Linked DNA regions of Homo sapiens. The protein of the gene in region 2 interacts with the protein of the main gene of each other region in a biochemical or structural test. Each region holds a gene or a part of one and is shown on either strand. Other genes may lie near its edges. The genes, in order: HLF and BATF.

Region 1 (3,825 bases), on a different chromosome or scaffold from region 2:
GCTCATTAGTTACAGAAGGGAAAAAGAAACAAGATATTAGATTTCAGCAAAGCCCAGTGCCAGCCAGGGCACGGGCAGGCTCCAGGATTGTGCAGAGGTGCCAGCCCGGGTTTCTTAGCTTGTGTCTCCTTCCTTTACAGTTTCTGCATGTCTGAGAGTGTGGCCCATGAGCCACACTTCCTTCTTGGAGCAAGGACCCACCGATCTGTCCCAACAGGCTCCTACTCTTTGCCCAGCAGAGGCGTGCTCAGTGAAGCAGAGATCAGAGGCTGGATGAAAGCAGGTGGCTCACCTCACCCTTAAATTACATTTCAACTTTCTTTACTCTCCCTGCTCAACATTTTAAGAACCCTTTTCCTTCAAGGGCACTCATATGCTTTTTTGGGTATGAGTTGGTACAAAAATTTTAGAAGGCAATTTGGCAATATCTATCAACTATTTAAATGGATATACTATTCATCTAGCACTCCACTTCCAGGATTTTGTCCTGTAGCAATCTCCATACATGTGCATGTACACACAAGCATAAACTGTTCACTGCAGCATTATGTGCAGTAGAAAAAATGAGGAAAAACTATGCATAGGAGATTTAACAACCACGTTATGATACAGTCATACAAAGGGATACTTGGCAGCTGTTAAAAATAATGACCCACCTGCACCAGAAAGATGTTCATATGATATGCCACTATGTGGGTGGAAACAATGACAGTTTACACACAAATATGTATGGTCTCATCCCAGTTTGATTAAAAATCATATATTCATAGAAAGAGGCGCAAAAAGATTTATACTAATCTATAAAGGTGGAGCCTCTAGAAGGGGGATTGGCAGAGGCAAAGATGTAAGACTTTCTACCTTTTATATTATTCTGAACTATTACAATATCATATAATAGATACATACACTTTGGTAATTAAAAATAGAAATTAAAAAAAAAAATCTTCAACCTGCCGCTAATCAATGTACTCATATTGGTGGCCAGAATTTACATAATTTACTCTAATTTCTTGTTTAACCATTCTCTAGGCCTTAATTAGCCTGAGTAATATTTTACTGTGGTCAGTGTAAAAACAATCCCTCCTTCCCTGCCCTCCACCCCCACTGCTGCCTCCCTGACAGAAAGGAAAAACTTCTTAAGAAGACTAAGAAACAGGGATCTTCTTTTAGATCTTCCCAATTCACTGATGGTGGCACCTGGTGAATTTTGCAACTCCCCTTTTTCAACAATTTGCAACAGCAAATCCCTCAGTCCTAGCAATGCTACTACCTGCAGTTACATGCCACCCAGAATAAATGGGTCAGGCCAGTGCTTGCACCCCTCAGAATTCCAAGGGGCAGTTGGCATTGAAGGAGGTCACATGGGTTGGGGCCAAAGCTGCAAGGAAAGTCTAAGGTCAGCGGTCCACCCCCAAAACTGCCCATTACCCTCAACAGGCATTTGCCCTGCACAAATACAGAAAGTGTGGGATAGAAACTGTGTAGATACCTCCTATCTGCCATCCACAAACTAGTACTATCATCTTAAATAAAGCACCCCCAGCTTTTTATACATTTCATAACAATATGCAACAGGGTAAAAAAACGATTTTCAAAATAGATGTTACCAGAATTCTTCTGGGTAGGAGGGAGGAGGCTGCTCTTTGAAGAATACCTGGGTGAGCAAGCTAGGGCAGGTGTGCAATGGTTGTTGGCCGAATTTGTTGTCTGTGCTTCTGAAAGCGAGCAGGGGAGCTGGAGGCAGGGGAGAGGCTGGGAGGAGTCAGGCGAGTCAATGACGTCATGGTGGTGAGGGGGCCCAAAGTGGTGAAGCCTCCAGTTAACAACAGTGGTGAAGCCTCCAGTTCTGATGGAAGTTATTTGTGTTTTGATAGAAGCCTGGGTTCCAATCCCTTCACAGTATCAGTAAATCTATACCCAACAATGTGCCTGGGAGTGCGGTTTCCAAGAGCACTCAAAAGAGGACTTGATTTAGGATGTATCAGAGTCTGCACACGGGGGAACAGGAGCCCAGGAGGCGAAGGGGTACATAAGAACAAGCCCCTGGAACACTGTAGAAACTGCATGTATGTGATGGGGGAGGAATGGGGGGTCCCACCATAGGCCACAGGCTTGATGTGGTGTAAGACAATTCTGACCAGGTCTTAATGACCAGGGAGTCACCAGCTGACTTCAGGGTAACAACCAACTTCTCTCTAACTTATTAGAGCTCTTCTCACTTCTAAAGTGCTCTCATTTCCCAGCCTCACCTGTCCACACATGCAGATGAGCCAGCCAAGGTGTGGAATGCAAAACAAACCTTTCAGGTGGGAGGGAGGGGAGCTGGGAACCGGGTCCAGAAGAGGATACAGAAGGCAGGAATGACGAAAGGAGTGTCCTGGACTAGAAAAGCCTGCTCGCCTCCCTTTGTTATCGCAGAAGGGTTGCGGGCAGGGGGGAAGCGGGATTTTGAGCGGGGCTGATAAACTTGGCACTCCATCCTCTGCCCCCTTTCCCTCTCCCAGTTGCTGATGCCATCTGGCTACCCAGTTACCTCCATGCAACAAGGGACCCACTTAGCCCCGCCCCACCCAACAGATCAACACTCCCTGTTTCTCACCAGACTACAAGTTCCATGAAGGCAGGAACAGTATCAGTATTGGCTCACCTCGGTATTCCCAGCCCCTGATACAGGGTTAGAGGGTTGGCACACACTAGCATTTGAAAAAATTCATCAAGTGAATGAATGGACCATTAAAAGCATTTAAAAAATCAAGGTAATTAAATGGATTTTCAGCTAGGTACCCCAGCATGTCAACCTCAATTCTCCCTTCTTTCTCCAGCGCATGCATGCTAACCCTAATGATTGGCTCAAGAGAGGAAGTTCAGGCAGCTACAGGGAAGATCATTTTTAGTGGGGCCATTTCATTGAACTGGTTTACTTGTCCAATGCTGGGGGCCAGAAACACCTTCTCCTCCATCTACCCTTAGCTCAGACCTTTCTGCCAGAAGGAGAAACATGTTACAGCTCTGCTTCCTGCTTTATATTAGCTCATGGTCTTTAGTTTGAGACTTCGTCCACAACTAAAAAATATCCAAGGACACCTGGCAGGACAATGTTCCTGCCCATTCCCCACCTGCTATGTGGAAAGGTCAGGCCTGACCATGACAGCAGCAATATGTGTAATTCCAGCACAGACGGTTTTTGTCTGGCCTCTTTGTTGCCAAGGTTACCTGGGTTATTAACTAATCTTGCTCTTTGATAAATCTGGAGACTTTGTGAAAGTCTGGCTGGAAGTTCTGTCTATCACTCATAGCAGCATCCTTTCAAACTACCCTCCATTCAAGAGAAAATCCAGGTTGAACAGGATCCCTGGCTTTAGTTTAAGATACGAGGCTTTAAAATACACAAAAAAGGCCGGGCGCGGTGGCTTACACCTGTAATCCCAGCACTTTGGAAGACCGAGGTGGGCAGATCACAAGGTCAGGAGATCGAGACCATCCTGGCGAACACGGTGAAATCCCGTCTCTACTAAAAATACAAAAAATTAGCCGGGCGTGGTGGCGTGCGCCTGTAGTCTCAGTTACTCAGGAGGCTAAGGCATGAGGATGGCTTGAACCGGGGAGGCGGAGCTTGCAGTGAGCTGAGATCGTGCCACTGCACTCCAGCCTGGGCAACAGAGTGCGACTCCATCTCAAAAAAAAAAAAAAAAAAAACACCATAAAAAATTGGATCACTAAGAAGACAAGACTAGGAAAGGCATCTCATTGAAATAAGGTACCTAATTGCCCAAGACCTGAGCCCATGGTGCCCCTTTTTTACCCCATCTCAGTCTAACCATCAAT
Region 2 (3,825 bases):
TGTTAACATTTATTGCTACACAGACTTCTCAAAAAAGATTTCAATTGACATATTGTATCATTTGATATACCAATTGTATCTATCTATATATAGTACCTATCTATATATGTTGATATCATGATATATATGACATATATGATATCAATTGTACAATGGATATACTGTATTGAAAGTAAACATGTCTTTACTTTCTTGATCACGCCTGATGATGGCTGGGGGACAGTGTAGATTTTGGAGGATATTGCTTAAAAGACAAAAAAATTAATTCATGTAGAGATTCAAGGAAAATATAGGTTAGGGAAGATGAATACATCTTCATCAGAGTTTGAAGAAAGAGGCAGTAAAACTTAATGGTTAGGAAAATGGGTTCTGACGTCAGACAGACCTAGTCACAAGCTGTGTCATCTCCATCAAGTTACTTAATGCAAGGAATTATAAAATACAGCTTTTATGCAGATTAAATGAGATGCTGCAGGGAGAGCACTTGAGGCACAGTGGTTAATACATAGTCGTTTGTTCAATTAACATGGTTTTTTCTTAAAAGAAATTCATAGCAATGGAGACAGAAGGGTCGCATCTCTTTCCATAGATGGTTCACTGATTCTACATTGAACTTTTTAAGGGTGGAACTAGCCTGAACATTCCTGACCTGTGACTTATCTGTGCCAACAAACATTATGGCATGGTCTCCCAGAGAGAGCAAAAGAATTCCAGGAGTGAAATAGGACCGTAAGCATCCTTCTCTGCCTCCTCAGAAGGCCAAGAACAATAGTGCTACCCAAACATCTTTTCCTCCATTACTCAATTTTTCTCCAATTGTAAATACCGTATTTCTCACAGTGTTAGCTCAAAGCTTCATTTAATGCATAATTTATACTCATGACTTTTCTGTCATATATGACAAAGCACATCCCTGGAGCCTGTAAACCTCTCTTTTTTCTTATACTGGTGTGAGACTCCTTCAGGAGGCAGCCCCAGGCAAGCACCTGGCCCACTTCCATCTAAGACAGTACCTAAATCTCAAGCTTTCAAACTTGGCTGTTACTCTCACTTGCTTTCAGCTCCATCCACCAGGCCAGATATGACTTGTCAACAGCTCGGCTCAGGGCTAACACTGCTATTTGCCACTGCTCCCGGCAACTCCACTGATTTTAGCCTTTTCATGAATAAAGCTTCTTAATTGACCTCAGCTCTCTTTTCCACTGATCCTGGTCTTTGACTTGAAATCCTTCCAGCTGTACGGCACCAGATAGCCATGACCAACCAACCAAGATGGCTACACAAAGGAAACGGATTTGCCATCTTTTATCATATAGTACTGTGGACCTTAGAGTCACTCAAATCCCAACTTACAGTTGGTTCTCCCAAGGGCTGAGATATTTATGTATGATGTTCAAAAGATAACGTCAAGATTGAATACTCTTCCATGTCGTGATGGAAGATTATTCAATGTTTGATGTCAAAATTAGAAAAGAAATCCTCCTAATGCATGTGTGGTAATGATCAATGCTGAGAATTTTGATATCTATATTATAAAGATAAAAGCATGTGATAAAAAATCCCAAACTGTATAAAAGGTAAAGAATGCCAAGTATCTCCCTCTTGCTTTAGATCTTTAGTCCTACTTTTCAGAAATAAATATCATTAACAATTTTTTATAATCTATTTGAAAAAGTTTGCATTTATACTTATGCATATATGTAACTTTTTCTTTTTATTAAAAACACAGAAGGGGCTGGGTGCTGTTGCTCACACCTGTAATCCCAGCACTTTGGGAGGCCAAGGTGGGCAGGGCAGATCACTTGAGCTCAGGAGTTCGAGACCAGCCTGGGCAACATAGTGAGACCCTGTCTCTAAAAATAAAAAATAAATAAATAAATAAAACATTAAATTAAAAAACTAATGGTAGCAAACTATGGACTATATTTATGCCTTTTTAACTTAAAGTACAGAAGTGATAATCCTTCCAGATTAGCACATTCAGATGTAACTCATTATTTTAACATATCTGCAATATTCCACAGAATGGACAATAATTTATTGAATCCCTTATTGGTGGATTTTTTTAGCTTATGTTCAGTCTTTCCTATAAGAAACAATGCAGCAATGATTATCTTTACATGTACAGAATTGTATGATGTGTGGATTTGTTTGTGAACACACTCCTGGATGTCAAATTGCTGAGTCGCAGGGTATGTGCACCTATAATTTGAATGGACGTGGGCAAATTGCCTTCTACCAGGGTTATGCAGACTCTACTACTAGCTGTGTGTGATGGTGCCTGCTTCTCCATTACCTTGGCAACATCGTGTATCAACAACATGTTTCATCTTTGCCAGCCTCACTGCTGCTTTAATTGGCATTTTCCTAACTAAATAAGGTCTACCATCTTTTCACACATTTATTTGCCACTTATTTCTCTTTTCTGTAAATTGCCTATTCATAGTCATTGTTCATTTTTCTTTACTTTTTTTTTTTTTTTTTTGACGGAGTCTCGCTCTGTCTCCCAGGCTGGAGTGCAGTGGCGCTATCTTGGTTCACTGCAAGCTCCGCCTCCCGGGTTCACGCCATTCTCCTGCCTCAGCCTCTCAAGTAGCTGGGACTACAGGCACCCGCCACCACGCCTGGCTAATTTTTTGTATTTTTAGTAGAGACGGGGTTTCACTGTGTTAGCCAGGATGGTCTCGATCTGCTGACCTCGTGATCCGCCCGCCTCGGCCTCCCAAATTGCTGGGATTAAGGCGTGAGCCGCCGCGCCCGGCCCATTGTTCATTTTTCTTTTGGGTTGTTAATCATCTCCTATTCATAAGAGCTCTCTCATATAGTAAGTAAACATACCTTTTTTGGTCATATGTATTACAGATATTTTTCCTCAGCTTGTCATTTGCCTTTGATTTTGCATACAGTATTTTGATCTATAAAGAAACTTTTACTTTTTATGAATAAAAGTAATGTATATCAATCTTTTCCTTTATGGCTTCAGGGTTTTATGTTTTATTTAGAAAATAATTCCTCATTCCAAGATAAATTTTTAATGGTTATTTGTCTTTTCAAGTTTCTTTAGCTTCCTTTTTTTAAAAAATTTAACATTTACCATGTTGGCCAGGCTGGTCTCGAACTCCTGACTTCAAGTGATCTGCCCACCTTGGCCTCCCAAAGTGCTAGGATTACAAGCGTGAGCCACCGTGCCCAGCCCATTTTGTATTTATACTTGTGTCCTAGGAGTTGAAATATGTATTTGGGTCTTAAAATCTGAATTTGTTTTTGGGTCTGTTTCCATATTCTATCCTGTTCAATGTTCTGTCTTTTCCACATTGTTTTGATTTCTGTATTTGTGTTTCACTTTAATATGTTGGTCAGTTAATCTTTTTTCATTATACTTCTTCTTTAGAATTTTCCTGGCAATTGTCATATGATTTTTTTTCACTGGAAACTTAGAATAGCTAATCTAGTTCTTGCCCAAATCCCAGAAAACCCTATTGGGTTTTTTATTGGGATCTCATTAAATTTATCAATTAACTTAAGGAAAATTGCTAACTTTACATAAGGTATATCTTTCCAATTATTTGAATCTTTTAAAAATCATTTAGGATACACTCTTCATAATTTTTGTTAAATTATTCCTTCCTTCCATTTGCTGTTGTCATTGGTATTATAAACAGGATCTTTCCTTCCATTAATTTCCTAATTGGTTATGTTTTGCATATAGGAACGTTATTACATTTTGTTTTAATTTTAGAAGCTGACTGCATTCTCTTATTATTTCAAATAATTTTTCAGCTGATTATCTTAGGTCCACTTATTAGCTATTGATATCTTTTAGAA

What was found.
Region 1: the proteins of BATF (region 2) and HLF interact in a test that uses a peptide from one of them, tested with the Homo sapiens proteins (one large-scale study listed by IntAct).

The regions. Positions count from the first base shown.
Region 1 is NC_000017.11:55,316,837-55,320,661, reverse strand, and holds part of HLF (hepatic leukemia factor), read right to left. Parts: intron 2-3,825; coding exon of another isoform or gene 1-1.
Region 2 is NC_000014.9:75,528,722-75,532,546, reverse strand, and holds part of BATF (basic leucine zipper transcriptional factor ATF-like), read right to left. Parts: intron 1-3,825. UniProt on the Homo sapiens protein: AP-1 family transcription factor that controls the differentiation of lineage-specific cells in the immune system: specifically mediates the differentiation of T-helper 17 cells (Th17), follicular T-helper cells (TfH), CD8(+) dendritic cells and class-switch recombination (CSR) in B-cells.